Homo sapiens: one gene and its partners. The protein of the gene in region 1 purifies or fractionates together with the protein of each later gene. This does not show direct contact. Each region holds a gene or a part of one and is shown in the gene's direction. Other genes may lie near its edges. The genes, in order: TSHZ1, PBX3 and MEIS2.

Region 1 (4,231 bases):
GGGGGGACGGGGGACTCGCGCGTCCCGCGGTCGTCTGCGGCCCCGAGCCGGCGGCAGCCCCGGGCGTCCCCGGAGCTGCGCGGCGGCCGGCGCAGGCGCCTCCCCTTCCCGTGCGAAGCGTTCACTTCCTTGCAAGGTGGTACGAATCAACCCCGAGCGCGGCCCGGGCGGCGGGGCACGACCGGGGACCCCGGGCAGGGCGGGGAGCCCCTGCCGCCGCTGCCGCACGCGCACCCGTACCGACCGCGGGGCGGGGAAATGTCCAGTGCCTCCCGCTCCCCAGGCTGGTGGCTTCCTGTCCCCGGAACCCCTTGCGCGTGCTTTCTGTCCACGGTCTGTCCCATGCAAGTTGCAGGAACTAAGCCATTTTATTTATTTTGGCCTAGATTTCATGTTTTTCCATGAATGTTTTAAGTAGATCTACAAGACTGTTACAGGTTTCCCATTGGGAGAGAACACACATATAGAAAACCAGAAGGCCAAATTCCCAGAGCACAGACACATTTTAAAGTTCTACGTGGGGATGCCGAGGGACTTAACTGAATTGGAGACGTTGCACTGCTGTGTGAGGACCTCATTTTCGAACCCAGCTAGAAAGATCTGTCGTTCCATCGTGTCCGTTTTCTCCCTACTGGCGTGCATGGACCAAATGTCAATTCACTTTTTATAGAGGGGCCAAATTAAATATTTCCACACTTTTCTGTGATGAACTAAGTCCATCTTTACATTTTTATTTAAATTGTAAAATTTAATTTTAAAAATATCTTGCTTTTCAGTTACCCACGAATTACCAAAATATAAAAGCTACTCTGGGCTCCTCCCCAGCCAAATCTAACCCCCCAACCTGAGATTGCAAAAGCGACACAGATATTTTTCCCCCCAAATGTAGGACATGCTTCACCCAAGGGTAGTTTGGATGCACGTGGTTGCGTGTGTATGAATGTGCAAGTGTGTGTATGTGTATGTGTGTGTGTTGGGGGGGAACTAACAGGTTTAAAAATCTGCAGGAACTAATGTCTACTTAACTTAGAGCATATGGGTTTTACCCGGTATCAGCCAGTGGGTTACAATAACAACACTGAATGAATTCCTCCAATGTACAATCTTTTATGTTATGCTGTATTAAGATTTCTTTTTTTTGTCATATTGTTTAGCTCCGAAAAAAAGAAAACAAAGCAATTAAAAAGATTGACAGGTATGGTTTGTGAGAGACCTATTTGTAATTGTCAGGGTGACGTTGGCGAGAGGAGGAGGAGTAAAAACTGAAGCAGGAAAAGCAGCTCGATGTGTCTGTCTATCAGTTGAGACTGTCTGAAAGCTCTGCGATCCGAATGTGTGTTATATTTCACTGAAAAGAGGAGAGAGCGAGAGTGCATCTCCCTCTCTCCCAGGAGTTTGAGGGGGGGGGGGACAGTCCACGCTCATCTCGCCCACCCAGTGAATGTCTGCTCTTCACCCCCTTTGCACACACTCTCCGGGTTGTTGTTGCCTTTTTTTTTTCTTGGAGGGGGGGGTGCTTTTTGTGTATTTTTCAAATTTTTTTCTGTTGGAAGATCAAGACCGGCCAAAAATCCATGATCAAAATGTGTTTGCATTAGATTTCGCATTGGAAGAAGCGGCGATCCTGGCGGCCAAGCCCCCCGGGTGGAAGCGCGGGGCACCAAGTGGCGCTCCGGCGGGGTGACACTGTTTGATCTGTGACTGTTTGGAAGGTGGAGCAGCGCCTGACATCTCCCCCCGGCGCATGTATGTACGGGGGCTTCACTCCTCTGTCTTGTTTGCTTTCTTCCTCTTAGACTAAGTGCGGGGAGGAAAAGGACAGCCTGCATCGGCCTCGCTGGCGCACAATGAGAAAGCTGCGACCCGCGCACTAAAAACACTCGCCGCGACCCCCAAACAGCGAGGAGAGAGGGGGAGAGAAAGTTGCGCTCGGCGACTCTCGGCTCGCGGAAGAAGGCGCAGGGGAGCGCCCGGAGCGGCGCGCCGGGAGGAGCGCCCGCCCAGCAGCAGCGCGGCGGCGGGGAGGCGGCAGCATGGAGCGCGGGCCGCGGGCCGGCCCGCCGAGCGCCCGCTGCTGCGCCCGCGGCCCGCGCCGGGGATGACTCCGGGCTCGGCGCCCAGGCCCCGCGCGCTCCGCCCGCAGCCCGGCGCCGGGAAGCGGGCCGCGCGGCCGCCGCCGCCGCCTCCTGAGCGGCCCCGGGCGCGGCGGTCCATGCGAGCGGCTCCCCGCGGTCCGCGGCGCGCCCGGAGCCCGGAGCCCGCGGGGACGAGGCCAAAGTTGGGCGCGCCGCGGAGTTGCGCCCGCGCCCGGGGCCCCGCGTCCCCGCGCCCCGCGAACTCCGGCGGCGGCTGAGGCGACGGCTGCGGCGGCCGAGCAGCATGCCGAGGAGGAAGCAGCAGGCCCCCCGGCGCTCGGCAGGTAACGGGCGCGCGGCCCGCGCCGCGGGGAGTGGGCGCCGGGAGGAGCAGGAGGAGGGGGCTTCGCGGGCCGAGGTGCGGGACGTGGGCCGCGGGCCGCCCCAAGCTGGGGAGGGGAGGCCCAGCCTGCGCTGGCCACAGTCGTCTGGAGGCTGCGGTCGCCGTCCTCCCCCACACCCCCAACCTGGGCCGGCGCGTGGAGCAGAGAAAGTTCGCGGTGCTTCTCTGCGCTGCGGGAAGCCCGGATGGCCGGGGGAGGCCGGGGGCCGCGGGACGGCGGGTGCTTCTGGCTACCTCAGGAGGGGGCGTGCGCTGAGGGGAAGTAGTTGCTCCTTGGCTGCCGGAGCGCACTGGAAAAGTCCTCCAAAGGCGGGGAGGCTGAACCTGACACTTGAAAACAAGGTCACCAGGCTGGGACGCAAAGAATGTGTTCAGAAGATTTCTCTGGAAAACAGCAGCCTTTAATGTCCTGTGCAAGAGGCCCCCCGCCCCCACTTTTTTTTTATTACCTCTAAAGATGTCTTTTGATCAGGCCAGCACAAGGCAGTGATAGTGCAGACTCTGATTGAACAGAAAAGTTATTTTTCTCTGGAGGAGGAACTGGCAGGAGCTGGTTTTCCTTGTTTTCTGTTTTATTAGAGGATTGCCATCCTTGATTTGATGTGTGATTGATCGCCTGTCATCTGGCAGCCTTTGATCTATTCATTCCTGATAAACATCAATAAATCACTCACCATGGAAACACACATGCTCCTGACAGCTCCGCCACTATCAGGGCAACTTTTCTCTCTCGCTCCCCCTTTTGCTGCTCCATTTTAATTTTGTCTCAGAAGTTTTACAGCTGCAGCATCCCTTAACTCAGCTCACCTACTAATCCATTGCTAAACCTGGGGTGGGTCAGCTGCCGTGCGTTTTTGAGCACAGGTTTGAAAATAGCCCAGTGATTCTGCTGCCTGCTCAAGTCTTGTCTCAGTTTTGGACATTGCGTTTGTGGGGCTGAGAATGCAACCCATATGCCAGTGAGTTATCGCTAAATAATAGAGTAAATCAACTCTCTCCAAGCTCTTAGGGTAAAAATATTAGAAGGAGTGTTTTATGTTTAAACATGAGCGACTCTTTAGCTGTTGCAGTACAGAATAGAATCTGAATAAGTTTGAGTATCACATTCAGTAATGTGCACGTGTTCAAGTCTTTATACGTGCTTTTTCTGGGGAAGCACTTAAAGCAGAGATTACTGCTACTAAAAAAATTTGGGAATAGTATCTACGTTTATGAATGGTTCAGTAAAATAACCTCATCATTTCCATTAGATCACTGATAGAGATGCTCTCAAAGAGTTGAAGGAGATTACCTTATGCTGAGTATTCACAACATAAAAGGAACAGAATGGAGAATATTTATTTTGGAATAACTTTGAGTAATGGAGGAAGAAACCTTTCAAAGAGAGTATCTATGCCACTGGTAGCCCCCAAATAATATAGCTCAGTGTCTCAAGATATTCGCCACTTGCTCATGCTAGAAACAAGAGGTCTTTACATTTTCACAGTTAGAGGGATTTTTTTTTAAATGACAGAATGTACAATAAAAAGTTGTGTTCAGAAAACTACTCCTGTACTCTTAAGAACTTTTGCAGTTAAAATTGCGGTGAATATTTCCAAGGACAAACAAAATGCTGAGGGAATGAGGTACTGCAACTTTAAATACCACATTTTTTTTTTTTTTAAATAAAAGGTTTGAAAGTTGACAAGGGCATGATGGTGCATGGTAATCCATCCTGGCAGCTCTTACATAAAAACAAGCCGTCAAGGCGACT
Region 2 (3,648 bases), on another chromosome or scaffold:
GATAGAAAATTATTTTACCTTTTTTATGTTTGGGGAGAAAAGTAGCAACACGTCTGTCTTAATCTTTCTTCTTCATCTATAGTTTGGGTTACACTTCTCAAACTGTGGCTGACTTGATTTTTAAATGAAGAAAGCACAGAAAATAAAGTAGGTATTTTTACTAATTAGCTTTGTGACTTCTGACCACTATCCTGCATGTTACTTTAAAATAACAGACACAAAAGAAAAGCTATGAAAAATTATAAGAATAACAGAAAACATTAATATTAAAATTGTCGCTTATTTCAAAGCAGTCAAGAATTCAGGGCCTGCTGAAAATATCTCATCTGGCCTTGTTTTACATGGCACTCTGCTAAAACATTTTTCTCTGAGCTAAGACTGTGGTGTGGTAGTTGAATGAATCAAAAAACAAGTCCATCAGAAAACAAAATTACAGCGACGTCGTAGGCCTAAGCTTATGAATAATTTGGGGCCTAAATTTATGGTATGCTCATTAGGAGAAAAAAAAATCAAACAACTCAAGTTTCCATAATAGCTTTTTGTTTCTCAGCAGGTCTGAATAATGTACTCTTTACTAAGTAAAAGTGATGTGATGACAACTTTTATCATTATTATGGATATTATCTATCTTCCCTGATTATGGAAATATTGTAGGGCTAGATCTTAGTTACGTCTAATTCAGGACCACGTGTAGAACATATTTGAAATAGCTATGGTCTGAAGCCATACTCTTCAGTGCTGGATGAACAGAGGTTAGTCATGGTCCAGTGGGCTTGGTCCTTGAAATGAGGGAGCCACAAAGCTTAGTTAGTGCACTGTGTTGTTTGCACCTCATTCACTCAGGTCAAGCCTTCATTGTGTTACAGTGTTCTTCTGTTAGAAAGGCTCCTACTGTACAATCTAGCCAATGCAGATTTCTAATCTGCTTATTTATAATTCAAAAGCTTGCCTATATATTAATGAACCCTTAATGAGCTGTTGAAAATGCCTGAATTACAGTCAGATTATTAAACTCAAACAGCCCCGTAATCATACCATTTGAGTGGGCTTTAGGTACTTTTCACATCTGCAGCTTAGAATTGTGAAGGGTATGCGTTTATTCGGAGAAAGCTTTGTAATAATTTTGACCCGTAATTTATTTATTGCCCTCCAAATGCAGTCGTCTATGCAGATGCTCTCTCCCATTATCTGTGGGGCAGGTGCACAGCATGTTGAAAGACAGCTAATTAGGATTTGCTGAAAGATATGCAAAAACTGTAGGCTTATAACAAAGCCAAGTTCATTGTTAAACAATGTTTTACTGTGTTTGTATGATTTGTCTAAATCTTAGGGATACGGAAATGAATGTTGTGATTATAAGTAGATTGCAAATAGGGTTTATTTTTTAAACTTTATAATGTTGTGATGACCAAAGAACCTAGATGTAAACCTTTATAAACCTCTGTATGTTTCATTATACATACATTTTGGATTAAAAACAAGTACAATCAAATTTTAAATGATTGTTTTACCATGTTTCAATTTGAAGATATCAAGATATTTTGATAACCACACAGTCTGATTCATTCTGGCCCTTGCAAATTTAGACCCATTAAAATGTTTATAGGTGCCCAGAGGAGTAGGTATTATGACTAAAAGCCAGTGTAACTCTAGAAAGTTAGTAAACTAAGTAATAGTGAGTGGCTAGGTAGGTAGGATGAGGAATAAAATGGTAACTAAATGTTTTTAAGTAAGAAAATAAATAGAAATATTCAAATTGAAAGTAATTTTGGAAACCAGGTATTAGTATTTAAAGATCCCATAATCATTACTTTGCTTAATAAAGAAAAGAAACCGATTCACTTTTCAGACTAGTTATGAAAATTCCTTTATTATTGATAGTCTTCTTCTTGTTGCCTATTTGCAAAGTACTTTAGTACTTTTCATCTAAAGAACTATGAGTTTTCCGTCAGGAAATGATTTTTCTGATGAAATTTGATGCACATAATTTATAAAGTAAATACAAAGGATTGCATTAAAACATATTTTCCTGTTCTTGAGGCAAGCACTTAGTGTTGATTTACTGATAATTTTAGAAATAAGATATTTTTTCATTATAAGAGTAAAACGTTATAGTAATTGATACTGTATACTTATAATTGTTTTTATTTGTGTCCACGGCTTTTGAGCTTATGGATTGCTTCTTATTGGTACAATAATGATGGTTTATATACGTATTTATATACATATGTATAAAAGTATCATAGATGGCTAATTAGTTTTGTGCCTTTTGCATTTGTTCCTAATGAATTTCCTTCTGTCTCTCTTATGGTGTACTTCCTTGTATGTTTGTCATTGAGCTTCTTCTCTTGTTTGCCGTACATGTGCAGGGAAGTGTAATCATTTTGGGTATGGAAGTTAATCTGCTATTAAAGTACTTCACCACATGTCCATAGGGAAAAGATTAATGTGTTTAACTACAAGGGGAAAACTAGAAACCCGGAGGAAACTTGAAGGTAGATTAAAAAAACACATTTCAGGAGAGGCACCAGTGTCTATGTAAATACAAAAATCAACAAACACACAAAACTGTGGGCAAAAATTCAGTTGAAAATGGAGAAACTTGAGAAGTCCTCAAACAAGAATAAAAAATTAAACAATTCAAAGTGCAGCATAAGAGATTGCTCAGTAAGCTCTCATTGCATGCCAAATGCACAAAAAACTTGCTATGTGAACTACAAGCATGTACAGGTCGTGAGATTTTTAACATTTAACACAGTGAATTAAAAGAGAGGAAAATTAAAGATTTAAATTAAAAATGCAAACTTAACCAATACATGGCAGTTCTAGAACAATATTAGGCAGTCCCTTTTAGTTATAGAAGAAACAGCAAATACGTTTGCCTATTTTTAATTATCAGCAGTGTGTTGGTACGCATTTTATGAGTTATCTTTTTGCTCTCCTAAATGAATATATTGTCTTAGTATATTATAGTTTTCAAACCTTATTTGCCTCTGAATAGACAACAGATAAAATTTTAAATTATGGTGAGTTAGTTTTATTATCCAGTTGAAATTATTCTGAAGTATAATTTTAAATGAAAGTGACAGCTTTAAAGTGTTTTGGGGAAGAAATTAAAGTTTTGCATTTGTGTTAAGGCAACCAAGAGCTCTGTCATGCCATGGATGTAATTCAGGGCATCTAGGAATGAAATCTGTTCTTAAAAGAATTGACGGTAGCTTTAGGTTAGCATATAAAATCAGAGTTGGTGATCAGTTGAGTACTTGGCAGCTTATAGATGTTATGTCATGTAAGTTACACTAGACACAAAGTGTGTACCACTGTGGATAAACAACAACAGGCACAGACTCAAAAGAGAATCCAAATACAAACAAGCAAGGTGCCAACTTCCTTTTCCCCTCTTCCCCAAGAAGCCTTGTAACTAGTGTAGGGAACCTGCTTTGAAGCAGATTTACAGAGGTTAATTGGGCTGGGATGTTTTAGATTATGTTACACATTAATGAAAATGCTGATTTTGAGCTGTCATGACTCCAATGCTTTTTATACCATGATAATTATTTTAAAACTTTGTCTTCTGTGTTGTTGAAAACATTTTGGCAGAAAGCCTGTGTGACCTGATTAAACCTATGAATTGTCAGCTATGATCTA
Region 3 (3,648 bases), on another chromosome or scaffold:
GACAGGATTCCTGGCCAAAGGACGCAGGACTGCTCGTTTCAGGCTCCCTAACAGAGGCCTTGACGAAGGAGAAAGTTTCCTGCCGATGAGAAGCAACTTTGGGTTTTTTTATTTTTTACTTTTTTTTCTTCTGTTTCCTACTGAGGGTCTGGGAGTCACTAACAGCAGCTTGAGCTGGGATCAGGGCTGCTTCTGTCGGCCAGGAAGTCCTAATCACCCACTTCTTAATTCTCTGTAAATAAAGGGGGCAGACCTCGAAGTGCAGCGAGGTGGAAGGGACTCTTGCTTGCTTGGAGCCGCTCTTAGGGGGAGTAAGGAAGATGGCTGGAAATTATTTTATATTCTGAGAGCACTTGGCGAGGGGTGAGATGCACGATCCTAACGTGTACCACACGAGCTCTTCCGGCTGAGGGTAGGTGGGCAAAGCGACGGGATGCCGAGGGGAGGGGACAGTGGGTAAACAGCAACTGAGCCCCAAGCCAGAGGCCGCAAGCATCCCGAAGTGTGGCTAAGCCGCCCGGAGGAACACAAAGGGCATACGCGCACGCACACTTAAAGTTTTAAAACACGATTTATTTATTTTTGTCTGCTGCAACGCTGGGAGAAATGTGGTCTTTGGAAGGAAGCTCTCCAGTGTGTAACCTTCCTATTATTTTGGCCCCCACACTGTGGCTTTAGTAGAACAGGAGCAAACAAGTTTATAAGGCAAGGAGGTGGAGAGATTAAAAGAGCATTCTCTTGCATTTATGAAGTGTCACTCCGGTGTGTATGTAGGTGAAGCCTTTGGCCTCGTCTGAAATGCCCATTAAAATGCAGAGTTAAAACTATTTTTTTTTCAATTTCACACAGTGTTCCCTTCTTGGGAGGTCAGGGCTGGGTCTCAGGGGTTGGTTCCGCGGCCTCCGTAGTGTGGGGAGTGGATCAGAATCGACTCGGGCTCCAGACTGCCTGAGCGTCTCGGATGTTTCATTACGTTCCAACTGAGGCTGTTTTTATTTGTCGGGCTGCAGTGGCCGGGGTCTTCTCTGGCCAGATCTGAGGGACCTCTGAGCTGCGGGAGAGGGCCAGGCCCTTTTCCCTTTCTGTTTCTGGCTTAGGCTCGCCTGATGGAGGAAGGGTTGTAAAGTGTGGTGCGTGCCTGTTGTATTAAAGAAGGACTCCACACCCTCCAAACTTGTTGATTACAGTTCTTGCTCCTTCCCCTCTGCACCCCGTCTCTGTGTGTGTGTCTCTGCGTGGCGCTGCCCGTTAGGCACCCGTTGTTTCCTCTGTTAGCTCTGGTCTTTGAGAAGTGCGAGCTGGCGACCTGCACTCCCCGGGAACCTGGAGTGGCTGGCGGAGACGTCTGCTCCTCCGACTCCTTCAACGAGGACATCGCGGTCTTCGCCAAGCAGGTCCAGCCTTCTTGATCCACTCAACTTCGGGCAGTCCCTCACTACCCCTCCCCTTTCCTCGGAGCTTTACTTGAAAGGAGGAAAGGCCAGGGACACCCTATCTGTTCCTCTGGCCCAGTCCGCTCTCTACGCCTCCTCCCCATCCCTGAGCCTGGGGGCGAATTGGAAGTGGAGATAAATATGGGTGTTTGTTTTCCCCCCCAGCAGGAATACAGGGGTCGACCCTCGAATTAAAGTTGACCTGCTCCTAATCTGGGGCTTGGCCTTTTTCCCCCGCCTCCAGCTACTTGAACAAGAATTGGGGAGAGGGGCTGTGAGGGACCCGGGAGTGCCCGGGAGGCAAGGAAGCTGGGCGCCTCTCCGAGCGGTCCCAGGCAGCAGTGGAGAGCCACAGCCTCTTGGACTGCTGGATATGGAACTCGAGGCCCTGAGAACGACCCTGAGTTCCTGGCTACAGCTTAGTCGTACCAGGTCCCCCTTAATGGGGCCAGGACCAGAATGCCCTGATTCTTCTTCAGGGACTCCACTAATTTAAGGCACCAGTTTCTTTCTTGTATTTTGCCAAAGCCCCTTTCCTCTTCTCCGCCATTGCCCTCCACCGTACCCATTCTCACATTTCAGCTTTCTTATTTTAAATGGGGTGATCGTTCAAGTTGACTCTCTGTTTCTTACAGGTTCGCGCCGAAAAGCCACTTTTTTCCTCAAATCCAGAGCTGGACAATTTGGTAAGGCTCTCTGTTCCTTGTTTTTCCCCAGCCTTTGCCCTCTCCCATGCCCAGAAGCACCCACTTTCTGCTGGAGCTCTGGGGAGTTAGAACAGAACCCTCTTTTGGAGCTCTAGGGAGAGAGGGAGGAAGGGAGCAGCTTAGAGCCCCCGCACGGGAGCTGGCGAGCGAGGAGCAGGATGAACGCGGTGGGGAGCGAAGCCCAGGGAGGCCGAAACGGGAGACCGAGCGCCGAGAGCGCGAGCAGGGGATGTTTCCCAGGTCTCGGCCCCAGGAGTAAACTGCGAGAAGTGAGTTATTTCCTCTGTTTGCCGGGGCAGGCGGCCGAGCCCCGGGCGGCTAACCCGAAGGATGTAACCACTGGCACGGCTGAGGGCGGGCTGGGGGTGGGGGCTGGGGGGCGGTGAGGGGCAGGCCAGCGCAGGCCACTTTTAGGTGCGATTCTTTTGCTAATTTGCACGATTTCAATATTAAAAGTACTTAAATCCGCTTTCAAAGGCCCTGCCTCAGCATTCATCTTGAGTATTTCCTTCTTTAGTGAGGAAGGATTTCGCTGGGTATGCTGTTCTAAAAAGCTTTTTCTATCCTGAGAAGGGACCTTTTTTTTTTTTTTTTTTTTTTAAGGAAAAAAAAAAAAGTTGTCCTGAGGTCGAGGGAGGGGATGTTTAAAGAGGACTAAGAGGAGAAAAAAGGCCTGGCCCGAGGAAAGCAGTCTTACAAATAGCACAGTGAACATCAGGGGGAAAGATATTAATGCTTATGCTCAGGTTGAGTCAGATTCCTACCCCGTGGCCAATGAGGCAGAGATGATCAGTAATCACTTGATTTTTCTGACTATTTCTTGATGTTTAAGTTTTTCCTGGCCACCTGCCCGTTTCTTCTCCCCAGCCCAACTTTCTCACCACCATCCTCACCCCACTCCCAACCCCAAGACAGGACCTCAGAGTCACAGAGCTCTAACTCCATTCCCTGAACTTTTCTTTCAGATGATACAAGCAATACAAGTACTAAGGTTTCATCTTTTGGAGTTAGAAAAGGTAAGCAGGAAATAACGCTCCCCGTGTTGATTAAACCATTTCCCTCTCCTAGTTGAGTTGGGATGTTTTTAACAAACCTCTAGTGTGAGGGATTGAGCACCTGGAGATTTTGAGCATGTAACCATGTCCATCCTTCAACTCGCTTCTCAACACAGGGGCTCAGAGGGTGGGTGAATCAGGACAGCCTTGCCTTTAAAGTAGCCTCCTCCTCCCCAATATTCCCCTCAGGCATTCAGGATTATTTTGAAATGCAGCAAACCATTTATGTTACTGGACACTCAGCCTGCTTGCATCTTTATTAGCTCAGCTCACCCTCGGCCCTGGGTTTGCATTAGGTGCAGGCAGAGTGAATCATCCTTGCTGGGTGTCTTTACATTGCTCTGCAGCTCAATTACTTTCCCCTGGAAACATACGAAACCCCTAGCTTATAAAATCACAAACGTTAATGCTCTCCCCAGCTCCAATGTTGTAATGTTTTGATGTTATTATCAA

The links.
Region 2: the proteins of TSHZ1 (region 1) and PBX3 purify together in Homo sapiens (affinity purification with mass spectrometry; one large-scale study listed by BioGRID and IntAct). This does not show direct contact.
Region 3: the proteins of TSHZ1 (region 1) and MEIS2 purify together in Homo sapiens (affinity purification with mass spectrometry; one large-scale study listed by BioGRID and IntAct). This does not show direct contact.

The regions. Positions count from the first base shown.
Region 1 is NC_000018.10:75,209,498-75,213,728, forward strand, and holds the start of TSHZ1 (teashirt homolog 1), read left to right. Parts: upstream 1-1,299; 5' UTR 1,300-2,379; coding exon 2,380-2,419; intron 2,420-4,231. UniProt on the Homo sapiens protein: Probable transcriptional regulator involved in developmental processes. May act as a transcriptional repressor.
Region 2 is NC_000009.12:125,911,263-125,914,910, forward strand, and holds part of PBX3 (pre-B-cell leukemia transcription factor 3), read left to right. Parts: intron 1-3,648. UniProt on the Homo sapiens protein: Transcriptional activator that binds the sequence 5'-ATCAATCAA-3'.
Region 3 is NC_000015.10:37,094,035-37,097,682, reverse strand, and holds part of MEIS2 (homeobox protein Meis2), read left to right. Parts: intron 1-1,252; coding exon 1,253-1,394; intron 1,395-2,068; coding exon 2,069-2,119; intron 2,120-3,105; coding exon 3,106-3,156; intron 3,157-3,648. UniProt on the Homo sapiens protein: Involved in transcriptional regulation. Binds to HOX or PBX proteins to form dimers, or to a DNA-bound dimer of PBX and HOX proteins and thought to have a role in stabilization of the homeoprotein-DNA complex.